Regions from separate parts of the Homo sapiens genome. Here region 2 is linked to region 1. The links come from fine-mapping of genetic effects on gene expression. Tissue or cell type: whole blood. Region 1 holds a variant in brackets; the other region holds the start of a gene. All regions are shown on one strand. Distances are from middle to middle.

Region 1 (11,608 bases):
CACTCAGCTTCAGCCGCCTTGGCCTCTTAGCTATTGCCCAAGCATGCCCAGAAGGGCTTTTGCAAATGGTGTGCTTCCTCTCTGGGACAGGCTCCCTGCCCCTCTTCCCTCAGCTAGCTCCAGGGCAGACTCCCTCACTTCCTGCCGGTCCCTCCTTAAAATGTCACCAGAGTCCTTTACTAGCTACCCTATCTAAAATAGCAACATGCCTGCCCCTCTGTAATTTATGTTTCTTGTAGCCTTTGCCATCTGACACATTATATATGTATTTGTGTTGTTTATTCCTGCTAGACTGACAGCTCCAGGAGAATGGGGACATCATTTTATGTCTTCACTGCTGTATTCCCAGTGACTAGAAAAGCACCTGGCACATGGTAGATGCTTGATTAACAGATTTACTGAATATATTTAATACATCTCATAGACACTCTTTTGGGTTTATATTTGTTAAAGTCCCAATTTCTTGTCATATTTAGACAGGGTATGCAGAGGAAATAAAAGCCTTTCCTAATTTCTACTTCTAAACTAACCACCTTTAAAAATTTCAGAGCCTTTCAAGGACTACGGGGTACCAAATGATATAACTCAAAATGTACACAAAAAACAGTACATTTATTTAAAGAAGATATACAAATGGCCAAGAGGTATATGAAAAAATGTTCAACATCACTCAAGATCAGGGAAATGCAAATCAAAACCACAATGAGATACCACCTCACTCCAGTTAGAAAGGCTATTATCAAAAAGACACAATATAACAAGTATTGGTGAGGATGTGGAGCAAAGGGAACTCTTCCACACTATTGGTGGGAATATAAATTAGCACAGCCATTATGGAAAACAGTATAGAGGCTCCTCAAAAAATTAAAAATAGAACTCCTGTGTGATCTTGCAATCTCACTACTGAGTATATATCCAAAGGAAATGAAATCAAGTATGTCAAAGGATACCCGCACTTGCATGTTTCTTGCAGTGCTATTTGTAATAGCCAAGATACAGAATCAGCCTGAGTGTCCATCAACAGATGAATGAATAAAGAAAATGTGGTAAAAATATATAATAGAATAAGTTCTGGTGTTCTATTCCACAGTAGGGTAACTATGATTAACAATAATATATTTTATATTTCAAAATAGCTAGAAGAGAGGATTCTGAATGATCTTACCACAAAGAAATAATACGTGTTTGAGGTGATGGATTTGCTAACTTCCCTGATTTGATCATTATGCAATGTATACAGGTATCAAAACCTCACATTGTACCCCATAAATATGTGCAATTATTATGTGTCAATTAAAAATAATTTAAAAAGCAGTAAAATGTATACTATCCTTGGAAAATAACTTTATACATCAAGAGGAGATATTTAAATTAATATTGTTCTCTACACCCCAAATTCTGCCCTAGTAACTACACCTTTGTATATTGACGAACCATCACTATAGTCCTCCCTTGTTATTTTCTCACTCTTCTGGGAGAGGAAGGTTGTTTTCTGAGACGGGCTGCCATAGGGAAAGAATACCATCGGGCTTCTGGGGTGCTGGTAATGTTCCAGTTCTTGGCTCAAGTGGTGTCTACTTGGGTGCTCACTTTATTTGTTTAAGTGTACATTTACCTTCTGTGAACTTTTTTCTAGGTGTCTTATATTTCAAAATGTTAAAAGTAAATAAATAAATGAACAAACTGTCGTAAAGGAGGTACCTAACTCATACTTTCCTTTCCCTACAAAGCTCTGGATAAATTCTTGTCCATCCTCTACCTGAGTACTCCCTGCGATGAGAAACTCTTTACCTAACAAGGCAGCCCACTTCCATTTTAACTGTATTAACCATCAGAAAGTTCTTCCCTGGGTCAAGTCAAAATCCATCTCTCTAATTTCTACTGGTTTTTCCTGGGACCTCCTATGGAATAACAGAGAGCAAGTCTAATATCTCTTCTATATGACCACCTTCCAACTATTCAAGGATAGCTGCTACCAATTCTCAATAGCCACACTTCCTGTTAAGTTGCCTAGAAGTTTTTAGTTTCTCATTTCTGAGGATCAAAAATCAGATTCTATGATCTGTAATTTATCCTATTCCTACCTTTTACACAAGCAAATTATTTTTCTAAGATATGAACAATGGCAAACCAAGGCTTTTAGTAATAAATAGAATGCAAAAAGCATGATTAAGGAGTGCCTTATTGTTCACTGCAGAGATACTCCATACCACTTTAGGGACAGGCTGTAAACTTTTTTGACTGTATAAACCATTAGTAAAAACATTTGAGCATTCTCTGAATATATGAATATTTATAAATTATATACATTACCACTGAACTAATACATTATGCATATTAGAAAACATATACAAAAATAAAATCTTAAGAGGTGGAGACTTTAATCAAATAGAAAGAAGCTTTAGTGTTTTTTCCTGCATCTCAGTGAATGTCTTTCACATGCCTTGGGGCTTTGTGCTTCACTTTGGAGACCACATTCTTCAGTATTGCAGTCTATACTTTCTATCCTCATTTCTCCCCTATCTGAGGTATTCCCATTTCCTTCAAAATATTCTTGCTGTTTCCTGTGATTTGTGAAACCAACCTCCTAGGGGCTTTGAACCAGCATTGTGTGAAAATATTCAAGGAAGTACCATGTGTGTTGGCTTCCATCCCCCCCCAGAAATATCAGGGGCATGTGCTTTGAATTACCTCCTCTGAATCACCATGAAAATATAATCTGCTACTCAGCTTTGAATAAATCAGATTTCTCTGTGACAAGGAAAGCCTTACATTAAAAAATTCAATCCCCCCCCATTTCCTATAATAAATCGATACTGTTTTTAAGACAGATGAATCATAACATAGGTGCAAAAGAATCAGAATTTTACGTGCCTTATAAAAATATACCTTACAGTTAATAATTACTTAACAGGATGACAAATTAGAGTCAGAGTATCTTAAGTCCTCTTTTTCCAGTACTACACTCACAAAAAAACTTCATTAAAATTTGTTTGAAAAAAAAATACTTACGTGCCCCAATGTACTTTCATGGAACAAGTCTTCTGCATTACACCAAATCCCTGCATTTCTTCAGTATCATCAAAGTAGGAACTTAGGATTCCTAACCCTTCTGGTTCAGTAAATAAGTCAATGTGACTAACTCTGTAATCCTGAAAAAATATAGATGCATAGATAGTAAGAATTGCACCATGTATTTCACTCTCTAGTAAGCTCATTCTTCTTCTTCTTACAACTAATCAAAATGAGCTTTAAATTTACAAACACATTTCACAGAGCACCTGCCATTTTAGCCCTTTCCTGTTTTCATCCATGAATTAATAATACACCTATTTCGGGGCAGACACACTTGCTTTAGTTATATAACTCAGTGTTGCATTCAAGCAAAGATCATCAGAAATGTATTTTATTTGAGTTTTGGAATATATTTCTTTTTCTCATCCTCACTTGGTCCTCTTTGGTCTGGGGTTTTGGTTCCTTTGCTCTGATATAATTATCCAAGCACAGAGACTCTAGTCTGTAGAATGGCTGCTCTTGGAGTCTTCCTCAGCCACTGTTTTGTGTCCATAAGCCCTCTGTTGCTTTGTGGTAACTCTCCTTGACTGAGTAAACCTCTATGATATTGGTTTGATCTAAGTCGTAAAAGCAAAAGCACACATTCATAGTGATTTACAAATCTCTGTACTTTGGTCATTGTTCCATGCCCCGCATATCTGTGGTCCAAACAGTCTTCAAAAGGCCTCTTCTGGTCCAGTGCCTAAGCGTTAATGGAATATTTATTGAAACTCATCTATGCAGCTGAGTTGGGTGAACTGAGTGACAGAAGAAATATTAACACTTGAATAAGCTCAGATGAGGCTTTTCAAATATTATCAAAAGGAACAACTCTAATGAGCTAAAAAGGTAACCTTGAAAATATACGCTGTGACTTATGTTTTATGTTTCAAGAAACCATGCACACGATCTGTGAAGAAAATATAATCCATGACACACTGGGAGCCATGACATATCATAGCCCTTTAACATGACACCATTCAGAAAAATGTACCCCAAGGAAACAAATTAGAAAATTATAAATTACTGGCCGGGCACAGTGGCTCATGCCTGTAATCTCAGCCCTTTGGGAGGCCTAGGCGGGCAGATCACCTGAGGTCAGGCGTTCGAGAGCAGCCTGGCCAATATGGCAAAACCCCGTCTCTACTAAAAACACAAAAATTAGCCAGGTGTTGTGGCATGTGCCTGTAATCCCAGCTACTCTGGAGGCTGAGGCAGGAGGATCACTTGAACCCCTGGGAGGCAGAAGTTGCAGTGAGCTGAGATTGCACCACTGCACTCCAGCCTGGGCGACAGAGCAAGACTGTCTCAAAAAAAAAAAAAAGAAAATTATAAATTATTAAATGCACAAAAACATTCTCGTGGCATTACTTATAATAGTAAAAAACTAGAAACAACCTTAAGATTCACTGAAAGAAGAAATAATAAATAAATAATGGTACCTCATTTATGTACTAAACAATAAATAATGTATCATTTCAATGGAATATGATATTCAGCTAAACCCTAAACCTGTGGTAACATGAAAAGCATTTGCTACAGTAAGTCTGCTATTATCAGACAAAACAAGAGATCTCGTTTCCCTTCCCCATCTTCCTGAATGCACCCAAATCCTCACCCCACCAGATTCTGATACCTTCCCCAGTTGCCAATCACAAAGATGTTACCAAGGGGAGTGTGATTTTCAGGAAAGTGGTATAAAGAGAAAAAAAGGATTGAGAACCACAGTGTTAGGTGAGAAGGGTGGAACAGCATTGTACCTGTATTATGATTATTACTGCAGAAAAAGCAGACTAGAATATGGCCAACAAAGGGTAGAAAATTCAAAAAATAAAAGGGGAGGGGACACTTCATGATGGTGGGAATCAGATGATCTTTTTAAACATTGCTTTATTTCCAATATTATTTGAGCAGTAAATAAAAACTCTAGGCAAAATATTCCACTAATGAGGACATTTTGAAATAGGGTTTCTCAAGTCTTACTTAGTCTTCTCGTATTATATACTTAAAACAAATAAAAGATAAATCATTTAGCATACCAATTACCACCTAAGTTACTCAGAAATGTTGACTCAGGAAGTAAGCGATGCTTTCCTCTGCCAAAACTGTTACTCATCCTTACTCATTCTCATGTAAGAATGTTCCTTTTCTCTGTATTGCATCTTGACACTCGTCTCCATTAAAACTTGGGATTTTAATTTTCTACTTAGAAGACATCATTAATTGCATTTTTAAGGTAAAGAATCATCAAATCCTAAGAGCCACAAAGAAAGACTCTGACAACACTTTCCTCATCAAATAACAAGAAACCAAGAAATTTTACCTCACCCATAAAGTGGCCTCAAATAGAGTAAATAATATTTTGTTAAACCCACATGAAATCCCAGAGTTAATCAACCAAATTATTTTTGGATTATTTATTTTTCCAAAATAGAATTCCTATAAACCACTCAAAGTAATCAGAACTCATACAGCAAACAAAAACACTAAATAAATGAAAAACCTGTTCATAGAGGCAGAACTCATTTAAACCAAGTTACCAGGTAAAATATATTTGGAAGATGGGAATAGAAGGACAGGCATAAAAGATCTACCTAAAGGGTTTATTGTGAAAAATTATCTAACCAATTATGTTTCTTTTTAAATTATTTAAAGTGTACAAATACTTAAAATACAGAAAATATATCCATAAGGCACCAAATATGTTTCCCAATCACATATTTCGTAAAATGATCATTTCCCTTAAAGTAAGAATCCATAAATATTAGCTGAATAAATAAAATCCATATTTACCACAACCTACCTGAACCACATGTCTGATGGAACCAATCACCACTGGCTTATCAGACTCTGCTTCTTCGTGCCTTTCCA[A/C]AATGTCTTCTATACCCCAGAGACCAGAGAGTTCCAATTCTCCTTCTTCTAAGGGGATGGAGTGCCCTTCAAAATTTGGTTGCTCATACAAAATCCAACTAACAATAAAACACAGCAAAACCATTAGTCAGTCTTCGTGAGAGAGGTTTTGATTACTCAAATAACCTGGCTAATTGCCATTTTATATATATATATAGAATATTAGCAGCCAATTATCTAGCAATTAAAATAGCTTAAACTCTCCCTAACACTAATATTTTACTGGGTATAATTAAGCCTCTGATAACTCATGAACTATATCAGGATCTTAGAGAACTTTGGAGTTACCTATATGAATGCTATAGAGCTACTAATGTTCTAAGTAATTGCCAAGTGGTAGAGACTTATGATAATATGTCAGATAAATGGATGTTTACTGTACTAGGTTTTTTTTTTTTTGTCTCTTTTTTTTTTTTTTTTTTGGATACAGAGTCTTGCTCTGTTGCCCAGGCTAGAGTGCAGTGGTGCGATCTCGGCTCACTGCAACCTCCGCCTCCCTGGTTCAAGCAATTCTCCTGCCTCAGCTGCCCTAGTAGCTGGGATTACAGGAATGTGCCACCAAGCCTGGCTGATTTTTGTATTTTTAGTAGAGACTGAGTTTCCCCATGTTGGCCTGCTGATCTCGAACTCCTGGCCTCAAGTGATCTGCCCACCTCGGCCTCCCAACGTGCTGGAATTACAGGCATGAGCCACCATGTCTGGCCTTTTGTCTCCTTATATGTGTAGAAAACATTTCTCTTAGAGAGACTTTAACTTACATATTACAGTCATATCAATGAATATGTTGGCACAAAAGACTATAGATATGGTAATGGAAAGCATTTTAATAATATTCTTCCCAACAACAGCCAAACACTAAAGAAAAACCTCATGTCAATATATGGCAGTGTAAATGCTTATGCTTTCAAGAAAAAGAAGCCGACAAAAGTTGCAAAAGAAAGGAAAAAGTACTGTTCCATAAAAACAAAATTTGTGTAAAAAATTGCCACTATTATATATTGTATATTAGTGGCCAATTCTCTAGCAATTAAAATAGCATTTGTCTTCAAATTTAAGAATAAAAGCAAATCTTGTTTTTCTCATGACTATGTTGGATATATAGGAAAAAATATTAAAACACCTAAAAATCTAATAGGAAAGCTGCTGCATATTTAATCAAATGGAGACCAAAAGAAAAGCTTATGAATTTGTAAATCCATAAACATTCAGAGGTCTACCCTCTTTACTTCAAACAAGTTTACAAGTAGGCACCAAAAGATAACTATTATGCCAGATCAGCGATTTCTTTTTTTAAGCTGCCTTTCTCTACCCAACTTCCTGTGTATCTCCAAGAGGCAATGAAGCTGATAAAATGATTTCAGAAACTGTCAAAATATTTATTTTTTTCACCAGTTTCTTTACTTAGCCAAAACAATCTTTTGTGGAAATATTGGAAAGTAAATTAAATTTTAAGTTAGTGCTGCATTGAACTGTCATTAAAAAGTTAGAAAAATGCCTTTCTTTATAGATTATTTTTGTTTTACCTTATAGATTTTTTTTCCTTATTGTTTCTTTACTTTGCCTTTTCCTACGTGTTCTCAAGTTTCCTTATAGGTTTTTGAAAAGTCGTATCTGGCCTATCAACATAACTAGTGCAATTCTTATCAACCTCATTTAAAGGTCATCAACCAAGAGTATGTTATGGGCCCTGATATATGACTAGTCCAAAACAATATTATGGGGAAGCATGGGAAAAAGAAGCTTGTTCTACTGTATTGTTCTGATTTTTCTCCCATAAACATATATCACTGCTATAATCAGAAACATGATTTAAAATGACATTGTTAAGATATGAATCCCTTATCTTACCACGAGTAGTATTTCCTGTGCTTTTCATTGCTAAAGCCATAATTTTAAACTAGTAGTGAGGACTAAAAAGTTAATTAAGTATGTAAAACTCAAACACTTGACATCAGGAACTTAAAGTGCCATTCTTACCATCCTCTAACAACTTTTATGAGTATCACTGGAGAGAGGCTCCAAGAACTGCAATCCTGAATGTCACTGAAAACTTCAATGCACTTCTCAGAGACGTCGGGTTCACTATATATCACTACCTGCAAGAAAACGAAAGTGGTAGCACACTTTGTTGTACTCTGTCAGACCAAAATAGAATCAAGACTAGAAACAGAAAATAATCTTACCTTTCCAGGTCGGGGATTGAGTTTATTTTGGACACTTCCTCTAAGTGTCTGCAATCAGATGAACAAAAACACAACAAATAATTACAACTTCACATAACGATCCTCTTTTTCCACCCACGATCCTGTAGGTAGATCACACTTTTCCCACATTGTATCGATTTTGAAACCTCCACTCTAATGGATGCTAAAGTTGTATTAAAACTCTTTGAGTTTATGCTTTTAAATTGAGGTTTTTTCACCTCTAACTGAATTTGCCATTTCAATTTCTCCTAATTTAAATGTCTAGGCTATTTCCACCAATGCTAGAAAATTCAGGGCACATATGTTTCATGTCAGTTCACAGAATAGGAACTCAGCTAAGAGATTCTAATTCAAATAATATCAGTATCATCTCAAATAAAGATAAATTAGAATATATTAATCACTTACCTAGAAAGAGCTGAATCAATTTTGTGTTCATATACATACCCTATCTGAATCCATATAAATATTGTTTTCTCATAGTAAATCTACAATCATATAACAACCACTAGTCTAAATAGAAGTGTTTATGGTATATATGGTATATTTCATAATGTACATTGCACATAGTATATTTAATCCCCCTTTTTTTTCTTTTGAGATGGAGTCTGGCTCTGTCACCAGGCTGGAGTGCAGTGGCATCATCTTGGCTCACTGCAACCTCCGCCTGGGTTCAAGTGATTCTCCTGCCTCAGCCTCCCGAGTAGCTGGGACTACAGGCATGTGCCACCAGGCCCAGCTAATTTTTGTATTTTTCTTTTAGTAGAGATGGGGTTTCACCATGTTGGCTAGGATGGTCTCGATCTCTTGACCTCGTGATCCGCCTGCCTCAGCCTCCCAAAGTGCTGGGATTACAGGTGAGAGCCACCGTGCCCGGCCTAATCCCGCTTTTTTGATAGACAAAATACATTTCAATATGGCTCCAAAACTAATCATTTTCAAGACCATCTGACAAGACCAGTAAAACCAGAAATGCATAAGATAATAAAATAGTAATTATACATGTAAAAATATTACAAAACGTGAACTACTTTCAGTGCTGACCAGGATGCCTATTTTAGGAACTGCCTTTGCTCTGACTGCTCTTGCATCACACCAGAGTGTGATATGCCCAGAAGACCACAAAAGGCTGGGGCGCAGTGCCTCACACCTGTAATCCCAGCACTTTGGGAGGCTGAGGTGGGCAGATCACCTGAGGTCAGGAGTTCGAGACCAGCCTGGCCAACATGGCAAAACCCCGTCTCTACTAAAAATACATAAATTAGCTGGGCGTGGTGGCACTCACTTATAATCCCAGCTACTTGGGAGGCTGAGACATGAAAATCGCTTGAACCTGGAAGGCAGAGAGGTTGCAGTGAGCTGAGATCATGCCACTGCACTCCAGCTTGGGTGACAGAGCGAGATTCTGACTCTAAAAAAAAAAAAAAAGGCCATAAGGGCCCCCCTAGAGCCTTATCAGAAGCCAGATGGTATATACCTATTTATGTATATATACACATTAGAAGTAGATAAACTGAAGAAAAAGCCTAAAATTTAAAACAAAATTCAGGTAAAACCTTCATGATTGAATATACAATCAATAAAAGCCCAGGACCTAAAGAAAGACCATATTTTTTAATCATAAAAAGGCCTAGAAAAAGTATAAAGATTTTATTTTTCCTTTTTATGTCATTTGACTTGATTTTCATAGGGAAACTGTATATTCTGTTATCAACTTTGTCAGACTGTAGTTAAATAAGGAAAGCGATCTAAGAACAATTAAAAAGAACAAAGTAGTAATGAATGGGAAGTGGACCAGTGGAAATTTTGTGCTTGAGAGAAATAGTTAATATTTCTATTATATAACTATTAATAGAAATAGTTAGAATTTTATGATTTCTGAGTACCATAGGCTGATTCAGTCTTATTTGTTTATAGCAGTGGTTCTCAAAATGTGGTTCAGAGGCCACTGCGGGGGTCTCCAAGATACTTTCAGGTAGTCCATGGGGTCAAAACTATTTTCATAATAAGAAGAGGTCACCTGCCTTTTTCATCTCTGTCTCAAATGTCCAGCGGAGTACAAGGCTCCATGATGTGTGATGACATCGTTGCTCTGAGCACTGGTGCAGTGTGCACTTCTACTTTCTGGTGTTTTACAATTTTCTCAGCAATTATTTATAATATAATAAATTCTGATAGGCAGAACCCATACAAACAAAAGCTCGTTGGGGTTCTCAATCATTTTTAAACATAAAGGGTCCTAACACCAAACATCTGAAACCCAAACTTTATGAAAGTTTATGAAATCACATGAAAAAGGGATCTGCACCTCTGCTGGAAACCCAACCATATATTTTGAAAGAGCTTGCAACATCACATTCTCTGACAGGATTGTAGTAAAAGCCAATACAATACATTGAACCATGCTGCAGTACCCTGTACAGACGAGGAAAGGTGCAAGGTATTTTCTGCCTAGATAAACTGTGTTGGATTGAGGTCCACACTTGCCAGACAGCCGGGTTCACAGGATGGACCACCAGAATACAAACCCTACTCAGGTTTCTAGCCTGGCAGAGCTGATCACTAAACATATATTCCACCTTCCTCTCTCATAGTCCTTTCTCACCTTAAATAAGCTTGGTAACAAAAAGGCGCAATTCACATCAAAAACCGAGTAAAGTAAACATCTTCTGAAGTGAGATAAAAGAAGATGCAGAAATCAAAATTATTCCCCAAAATCATGTTTTGCTGTCTTCTCTCTAATATTTAAGAAAAGATCCAATGAAAACCAAAATTCTTTATTCCCCACAGCTTTGCAGGGTAAAAAAAATATTTCCCTAATGAAAACTAATTCCCAATAAAGACAAAATACTGTCTCAATTGCATAGGATAAACACCTATTGCTACTTATGGGAACAAAGAGTGAATCTCACAGAGAGAAGGATTAAGAAAAAGTTTCCCTGGCTGGGGACTTCCCAAATAGAGGAAGCTCCTTCACAAATCTTCAAAATTCTAAGTATAGCACTGAGCATTTTTACATAGAATAGGTAAGAAAAAGCAACTCATCTGTCTCTGAACTCTAAAAGCTTACCTATACCTTTCATAATACAACATATAAATTCACATGTGCCTTAAAAGATTTATTGCCAGCCAGTCAGGATGGCTCACACCTGTAATCGCAACACTCTGGGAGGCCGAGGCAGATGGATCACGAGGTCAGGAGTTCGAGACCAGCCCAGCCAATATGGTAAAACCCCCGTATTTGTATTTTCAGTCTTTACTAAAAATACAAAAATTAGCCAGGCGTGGTGGCACGCGCCTGCATTCCCTGCTACTAGGGAAGCCGAGGCAGAAGAATCGCTTGAACCCAGGAGGTGGAGGTTGCAGTGAGCTGAGATTGCACCACTGCACTCCAGCCTGGGCGACAGAGCGAGACTCTGTCTCAAAAAAAAAAAAAAAAA
Region 2 (7,967 bases), 100 kb before region 1:
ATAGTACTCCTTAGTAGCATTCAACACAAGTGACCACTCCCTCCTTGAAACACTTCTTCTCTGTGTTCAGGACACCATGCCATCCTGGTTTTCCTCCTGTCTCACTGGGCATTCTTTCAAGTCTCTTTTGCTGGCTTTACTTCCTATTGTTGACCTCCAAAATGTTGGAATTTTAGGTCTTCTTCTATTTTTACACTCAACTTCCCAGGTAATCTCATCTGGCCCTATAGCTTTAATTATCTTCTACACTCTGGCCAATGTATATCCTCTTACCTAGCCTCTTTTCTGAGCTCTGAACTCTTGTATCTAGTTGCTTAACTGATATCTTCACTTGGATATCTAGGAGGCATCTAAAAATTAACACATCCAGAACAAAACTCTTGATAACCTTCCCCTTCCAAACATGTTCCCTTTAAGGTTTTCCCATCTTGATGTCACATTTCCCCAACTGCCCTAGCCCAAAACCTAAGTATCCTCCTTGATTCTTCTCTTTTCCTCAAACCCCATATCCAAAACATCTGCAAACCCTGACTTAAAAAACAATATCCACTCCCATTATCTCGCCAATGCAACAGGCTTCTAATTGGTCTTCATGCTTTCTTGCTTTTTTTTTTTGAGACAGGGCCTTGCTCTGTTGCCAAACCTGGAGTGCACGGATGTGATCTCGCCTCACTGCAGCCTCAACCTCCGAGGCTCAAGTGATCCTCCCACCTCAGCCTCCTGAGCAGCTGGGACTAAAGGCATGCACCACCATGCCCAGCTAATTTTTGTATTTTTTGTAAAGACAGGGTTCGCCACATTGCCTAGGCTGGTCTTGAACTCCTGAGCTCAGACAATCAGCCTGCCTCAGCTTCCGAAAGTGTTGGGTTTAAAGGCGTGAGCCATTGCACCCGGTCAGTCTTTGTGCTTTATTACTTGCTTTTCTAAAGATCATGGTCCCTTAAGAGTCATCTGAAGGAGCTTTTAAAATTTTAACTCAGATCATGTCCACAGATTCAAAACTTTCCAGAAGATTCCCATTACACTTGGAATAAAATCCATACTCCCTACTGTGGCCTCAAAGGTTCTCCACAATTTGGCTCCTACCTGTCTCCCTAACCTCTTCTCTCATTGCTCTCCTCATTCACTTCTCTCCAGGCATATTGGCCCTTTTGCTATTCCTTGAACATGTTAAGCTTGCTCTTGTTTTAGGGTCTTTGTACTTACTGTTCCATCTGCCTGGAACACTATTCTCTCAGATCTGCCCAGTGTTCCCCCTTCATGCCCTTCTGGTCTCTATTAAGTATTATTCACTCAATCAGAGAAATCTTCCCTGACCACTCTAGCTAAAATGTCCAGCTCCCCCAACTAGTTCTCATACTATGATCTACTTAATTTTTCTCCATAGTACTCATACTACCTGAAATTATATCATTTACTTTTTTTTTTTTTTAAAGTGTTTAATGGCTGCGTTTCCACACAAAAAAGTTAGGTTTCAGGAAGCAGGAGCTTCTGTCCGTCTTTAATGCTACCCCCCAGTACTTGGAACACAGAGGTACTCACTAAATGTTAGTTGAATGAATAACAGTTGTTTAAAATTTAGAATCGATTTCCCTATAGAACAATGATTAGTTTTTCTAAAGTTGAAGCTCCAAGAAGCCAAATGAATATATCATTCTTTAAACTTTAGGATTAATAATATTAGCCTGGTGCCTCACTCCTAGAAACACTGGGATCATGCCACAAAAGACAAAGGTAAAAGTGAGATTTCCTCCCCCTTTCTGAATGTACTTGGGTAAAATTTACAAATGGGAATTTTACCTATTTGGCATTTTACCTCCTTTTTGTGCCTATTCCCAGGACTCCTGTTACCATAAGCTTCCACTCACATCCCCCAAATTGCTGCCATCATTTCCAGCCCTTCTCCCTAATTCCCCGCAAATTTCCCCCTCTTCAACTGATTATCTCAATTAAGGTATTATGAAGAAATTTGAACTGTTATAATTTACAACAATGGGTGGAAAAATTGTTCAACCTTCCCAGGCATCTGTACATATTTAAAAGAGAATTAAATTAAAAGATAATTTGTATGAATTAATTAATCTCTAATTGGTAGAATTTAGGGCAACAGTACAGTGATGTGGAAAAAATACAAAGTAGACAGAAGGTAGTTTTAGAGCTGGGGAAATAACCACCAAATATTTTGCATGCTAGGCATTAATCAGTATTTGTTAAAGGAGTGATAAAGTAAAAGCAATCATGCCAAGGCAACCTCTGGATTTTCCCCTGGGTCAGCTCTCCTAAATAGTTCTTTTCTCCCCCCATGCGGCAAAAGTTGTTTTTCACAATGGCTAACTCAATGACACCAGAGAGAAGTAGCACTAAAAAAGGTAGCACTTAAGGAGCTATGACAGTTGTCAAAATCAAAATAGAGTGACTTGTGTTAAAATCCTGACAAATGGAGCCAAGGAAGGTCAAGAAGAGAGGGTTCTCACGCATGAATGCCTGATAAGAAGAACTATCACACTCCAGCTGACAAGGGATTGATAACCGAAGTATATAAGGAGTTCAAACAACTCAACAGGAAAAAATCCAATAATCAAATTAAAAATGGGCAAAAGATTGGAATAGACATTTCTCAAAAGAAAGACATATAAATGGCAAACTGGTATATGAAAATGTGCTCAACATCACTGATCATCAGAGAATTGCAAATCAAAACTACAATGAGATATCATCTCACTCCAGTTAAAATAGCTTCTATCCAAAAGACAGGCAATAATGAATGCTGGTGAGGATGGAGAAAAGTTGGATGAAATGTAAATTACTACAGCCACTATGGAGAATAGTATGGAGGTGCCTTAAAAACCTAAAAATAGAACTACTGGTTGGGCACAGTGGCTCACACCTGTAATCCTAGCACTTTGGGAGGCTGAGGGAGGAGGATTGCTTGAAGCCAAGAATTCAAGACCAACCTGGCCAACATAGTGAGACCCCATCTCTAAAAAAAAAATAATTAAAAATAAATAAATAAAAATAGAACTACCATACGATCCAGCAATCCCACTGCTACGTATATATGCACCTAAAAGAAAGAAAATCAACATAGCAAAGACATATCTGCTCTCTCATGTTTATTGCAGCACTATTCACAATAGCCAAGATTTGAAAGCAAGCTAAGTATCTACCAACAGATGAATGGATAGAGAAAATGTCCTACATGTACACAATGGAGTACTATTCAGCCATAAAAAGAACGAGAGCTTGTCAATTGCAACAACATGGATGGAACTGGAGGGCATTATGTTAAGTGAAATAAGCCAGGCACAGAAAGACAAACTTCCCATGTTCTCACCTATTTGTGGGAGCTAAAAATGAAAACAATTGACCTCGTGGAGGTAGAGTAGAATGATGGTTACTAGAGGCCTGAAAGGGTAGTAGTAGGGGTGGGAAGTGGGGATGGGTAATGGGTACAAAATATAGTTAGACAGAATGAATAAGATACAGTATTTGATAGCACAGCAGGTGATTACAGTCAACAATAGTTTATTGTACGTTTAAAAATAACTAAAAGAGTATAACTGGAACGTTTGTAACACAAAGAAATGATAAATGCTTGAGGTGATGGATACACCATTTACTCTGATGTGATTATTATGCATTGTATGCCTGTATCAAAATATCTCATGTGCCCCATAAATACATACACCTACTATGTACCCATTAAAATTTTTTTTTAAAAACAATCATAAGACTGCAAAAAACACAACCTTGCACAAAGGCCATTGCAACCTTCCACACACACGAGTACTTCTGTAAGAATGTCTGTCCAGCAACTGGCCATCCAACCTTGGACTGATGCCACCTTTGTGACTGATCCTTGTGGCCAAGGATAACTGATTCAAAATAATTTAAGTAATCCTTCTCATTCTGTCTTTAAAAACATCCCTTGCCTCAACCTTCTTGAATAGGCACATAGTTTACAATATTACACATATTCCCATTGCATTGCTACTCCAAAATAAATATTTTCTTTAGAGTCTCTTTCTGTTACTTAGATTGACAGTGGAAAAGGCAGAAAAAGGAAATAACATATTTTTATAGGTTGTATTTAATTTTAAAACAAGTTTTGGGTGTTGTCTGTTTATTTATTTTTATTTTATTTATTTATTTTTTGAGACGGAGTCTTGCTCTGCCGCCCAGGCTGGAGTGCAGTGGCGTGATCTTGGCTCACTGCAAGCTCCGCCTCCCGGGTTCACGCCATTCTCCTGCCTCAGCCTCCCGAGTAGCTGGGACTACAGGCGCCCGCCACTACGCCCGGCTAATTTTTTGTATATTTAGTAGAAATGGGGTTTCACCGTGTTAGCCAGGATGGTCTCGATCTCCTGACCTCGTGATCCACCCGCCTCGGCCTCCCAAAGTGCTGGGATTACAGGCGTGAGCCACCGCGCCGGGCATATTTATTTTTTAAAGAACAAATTTGATTCGACGCAATTTAAAATGATAACATAATAATGTATTTTGGGGGAAGAACTATTATTTAAAGCCTGTGGATTTCAATTTCTCATTATATATTACAGCTATCTATAATTATAATTCCACGCTGCCAGCTGGGAAACAAACAAAACGACAACTTCTAGGGTGGAATAAAAAGGAAGATGGAAGGCAGTTTAGGTCATCAGCGCCTACTTCTTACCAGAAATCACCTGGAGCCTCCATTAAACCATACTCCCGAACTTACCACACAGCTCTAATTAAGTCTAGAGTGGGGCATAGTTTTAGTTTCAACAGGTGCTTTATGTGACTCTGATAGCAATGGGCCTGCAGACAGTTCTAAGGTTGAGTGACGTGAACCAGGAAGCAAAAAGACCCGAATTAAAGCTATAACAGCAGAAATAACGTAAGAGGGCAGATTCCAGCCATATCTGCAAGATAGAATGAAGAGGGCTTAGTGATTTATTGGATATGAAAGATGAGGAAGAATCTAAAGGCAAATGAGATAATAGTTGTGCCATTAAAAAGAGTCTATTAAGAATTCAGAAATACCAGAGCTTTTTTAAGACGGGGGTTGAGAGGTAAGTCCTGTTACAATGATTACTTCAACACCGATTAAAGTGAATTTGAGGGTGCTTATGTGACATTTAGAAGAACTGCCCAGAAAGCATTCACAAATACAGTCTAGAATTCAAACACGACGTCCAGGACATGGAGACACGGGTTAGGAAATCACTGGTATCTTAGTGGTAGGTAAATCCTAGAGAACGAATTCTTTGAAAAAAGCCAAAAATTACTCATTTGAATTTTGCAAACTACAGTTTCGCCGGGCTTCTTAGCGACAACTGCAGCTAAGTGTCGGGGACAGAAGAGAGACTGAAGTGGCCCCGCAAGCCCCCTTTGGCAAAGCCCACTCCGAGACCATCCGGATCCCGACCTACACCAGAGCAAATGTCTAATGGTGAGAAGCCGCTTCACCACCCTACAGATCCGCGGTGCAGAGATTTCCCTGCTAAGGTCCTAACTCCTGAATGGGTACGGCGAGTACACCCGAAGAATCGAAAGGTACTTATCCCCCACTCAGTTCTAGAGGAAGCAGCGAGGTGGGCCAAGATGCGTGGTAAGGCCCAGGGACTCTTTGTCAACGAAGTCCGTTAAACTTTCCGCCCTCCCGGGGGCCTCAGCGGGCCAATTCCACTCACTTCTCGGAGGCTCCGGCCCAGCATGGTCCTCGTGCCCAGCCTGCCACCACAGGAGCCAGGCAAGGGGGAAAAAGAGGTCACCGGTCGCTAGTGATGTTACATGGGCGCAGCCATCTTTAATTGTCACTGAGCCCTTCAACACCGAGTACTTGGATTGGTTGAATTGCAGCCCGAGGAAATGATCTTTGTAGGCGATTGGTTGGCGCCGCAAAGCCATCCCGGCGGCTAAGGAGAGCGGGCAGGCAAGGAGATTCCGGGCCAGGGTCGCGGCGGCAGTCGGCAAGCGTTCGATTCTCTGGCGTTGGATCGCGAGCGGTGTCTGCTTGTCCCGCCGAGGGCTCCCAGGACAGGGCAGGGATCTAGGGGGTTTGCGCACCTGCTTTTTAATGCCCCGCCCCCCCTTTTTTTTTTAAAGTGGAGGGGGTGAAAGTGAGGGAGGAGAATGGACAGAATACTGACTGGAACGTTAATTCGAGCATTTCATATGCGAAGAGCGGAATAACAGTTCCGTATTCTTCTTTCAGTTTCTCCATTAGATTAGCTTCATTTTCGAATGCTCCGTTTTGCATGCTTAATTTTGAAACTAGCCCGTGGTTTGGCAGAATTTGACTGAATTCAGGGGTGAGAGTTTGATCCAGTCCAAGTGTATTTGAATTTGAGCACGCAGTTCAACCAGTGTTTACAATGGAATTTCTGAAGACTTGTGTACTTAGAAGAAATGCATGCACTGCGGTTTGCTTCTGGAGAAGCAAAGTTGTCCAAAAGCCTTCAGTTAGAAGGATTAGTACTACCTCTCCTAGGAGCACTGTCATGCCTGCTTGGGTGATAGATAAATATGGGAAGAATGAAGTGCTTCGATTCACTCAGAACATGATGATGCCTATCATACACTATCCAAATGAAGTCATTGTCAAAGTTCACGCTGCCAGTGTAAATCCTATAGACGTTAATATGAGAAGTAAGTTTTCAAAAGACATTGTTACCTTTTTTAAAAAAATCACTTTCATAAGGTATGCCGTTTTAAAAAATTGACTACGCTTCTTTGGTTTACATAAATGAATCATTTAGGTTTTTAACAATACCTCTGCAAATATTTCCAAAATTTTTGAAATTGCAATGGCCAGGGAATCCTTCTGGCCATTTGTATTGACAAAATATAAGCTTGATTGTTTTCATGCGTCCTTAAATATGTAAGTTCAGACTTGAGAACTGTGTCTGTAGCTAACTTTTTTTTTTTTGAGACTGAGTCTCACTCTGTCACCCAGGCTAGAGTGCGGTGGCCTGATCTCAGCTCACTGCAACCTCCGCATCCTGGGTTCAAGCAATTTCTCCTGCCTCAGCCTCCCGAGTAGCTGGGATTACAGGCGCATGCCACCACACCGGGCTAATTTTTTGTATTTTTAGTAGAGATGGGGTTTCACTATGTTGGTCAGGCTGGTCTCGAACTCCTGACCTCAGGCGATCCTCTGCCTCCGCCCCCTAAGTGCTGGGATTACAGACGAGCCATTGCGCCCTGCCTATGTTTGTAGCTAAATTTCTGTCCAGGGAACTTTGTGGTATTCTGAGATCCGTCACAGGCTTCGGAAGTATAGTTGTTTCCTAGTCAGTTTAGAATTTATGGGGTTTTTTGTTTGTTTTTGAGACAGAGTCTCACTCTATCGGCAGGCTGGAGTGCAAGGGCGCTTTCCTGGCTCACTGCAACCTCCGCCTTCCGGGTTCAAGCGATTCTCCTGCTTCAGCCTCCCAAGTAGCTGGGACTACAGACATGCGCCGCCACACCCAGCTAATTTTTGTATTTTTATAGAAACGGGAGTTTCACTGTGTTGGTGGGAGGCTGAGGCAGGAGAATCGCTTGAATCCGGAAGGCGGAGGTTGCAGTGAGCCAAGAACGCGCCCTTGCACTCCAGCCTGCCGATAGAGTGAGACTCCATCTCAAAAAAAAAAAAAAAAAAAAAAAAAAAAGCATTGAAATGACTTTACTGTGATTGTCTCATGAAGTCTACGTTTGTATTCTTTGTTTTGAAGTAGTAATTGCTACTACCAGTTGGGCATGCCGTTTTCCTTTATTCTTTTTATATTAGGCTTGAAGAGAATTCAGTTTTTTATAAGATATGTCTTTTAGTGGTAAGTTTTACTCAATGATCAGCATGTTTTTTCATCTCCTTTGATTGTAAGTTCTTTCAAGATTGATCCCATGCTTTGTCAACCTGTTTCAGTGCTTCACATACGCAGTTGTCATTCAGTCACTATTTCTATGCCTTTTTATATTTTTGTTCTGACTTAAGATAACAA

What was found. PIP is the estimated chance that this variant, and not a neighbour inherited with it, causes the effect. A credible set is the group of variants that fine-mapping cannot tell apart.
Region 2: QRSL1 starts here. The variant in region 1 is the best candidate, but not a certain one, in a credible set for the expression of QRSL1 in whole blood (TOPMed, PIP 0.90).

What each region holds. Positions count from the first base shown.
Region 1 is chr6:106,521,720-106,533,327 of GRCh38, reverse strand. It overlaps CRYBG1 (crystallin beta-gamma domain containing 1), which reads right to left. Exons shown (of 22, transcript NM_001371242.2): 5 at 8,148-8,195; 6 at 7,942-8,060; 7 at 5,858-6,023; 8 at 3,013-3,152. Among named protein-coding and RNA genes, the nearest start is that of RTN4IP1, 100 kb to the left of the region's middle. The variant A/C (reference allele first, on the strand shown) is at 5,926.
Region 2 is chr6:106,627,414-106,635,380 of GRCh38, reverse strand. QRSL1 (glutaminyl-tRNA amidotransferase subunit QRSL1) reads right to left here and starts at 5,803. Exons shown (of 11, transcript NM_018292.5): 1 at 5,676-5,803. The coding sequence starts at 5,699. It overlaps RTN4IP1 (reticulon 4 interacting protein 1), which reads left to right and starts at 5,883. Exons shown (of 9, transcript NM_032730.5): 1 at 5,883-6,633. The coding sequence starts at 6,360. RefSeq lists enhancers at 5,572-5,631, 5,662-5,801.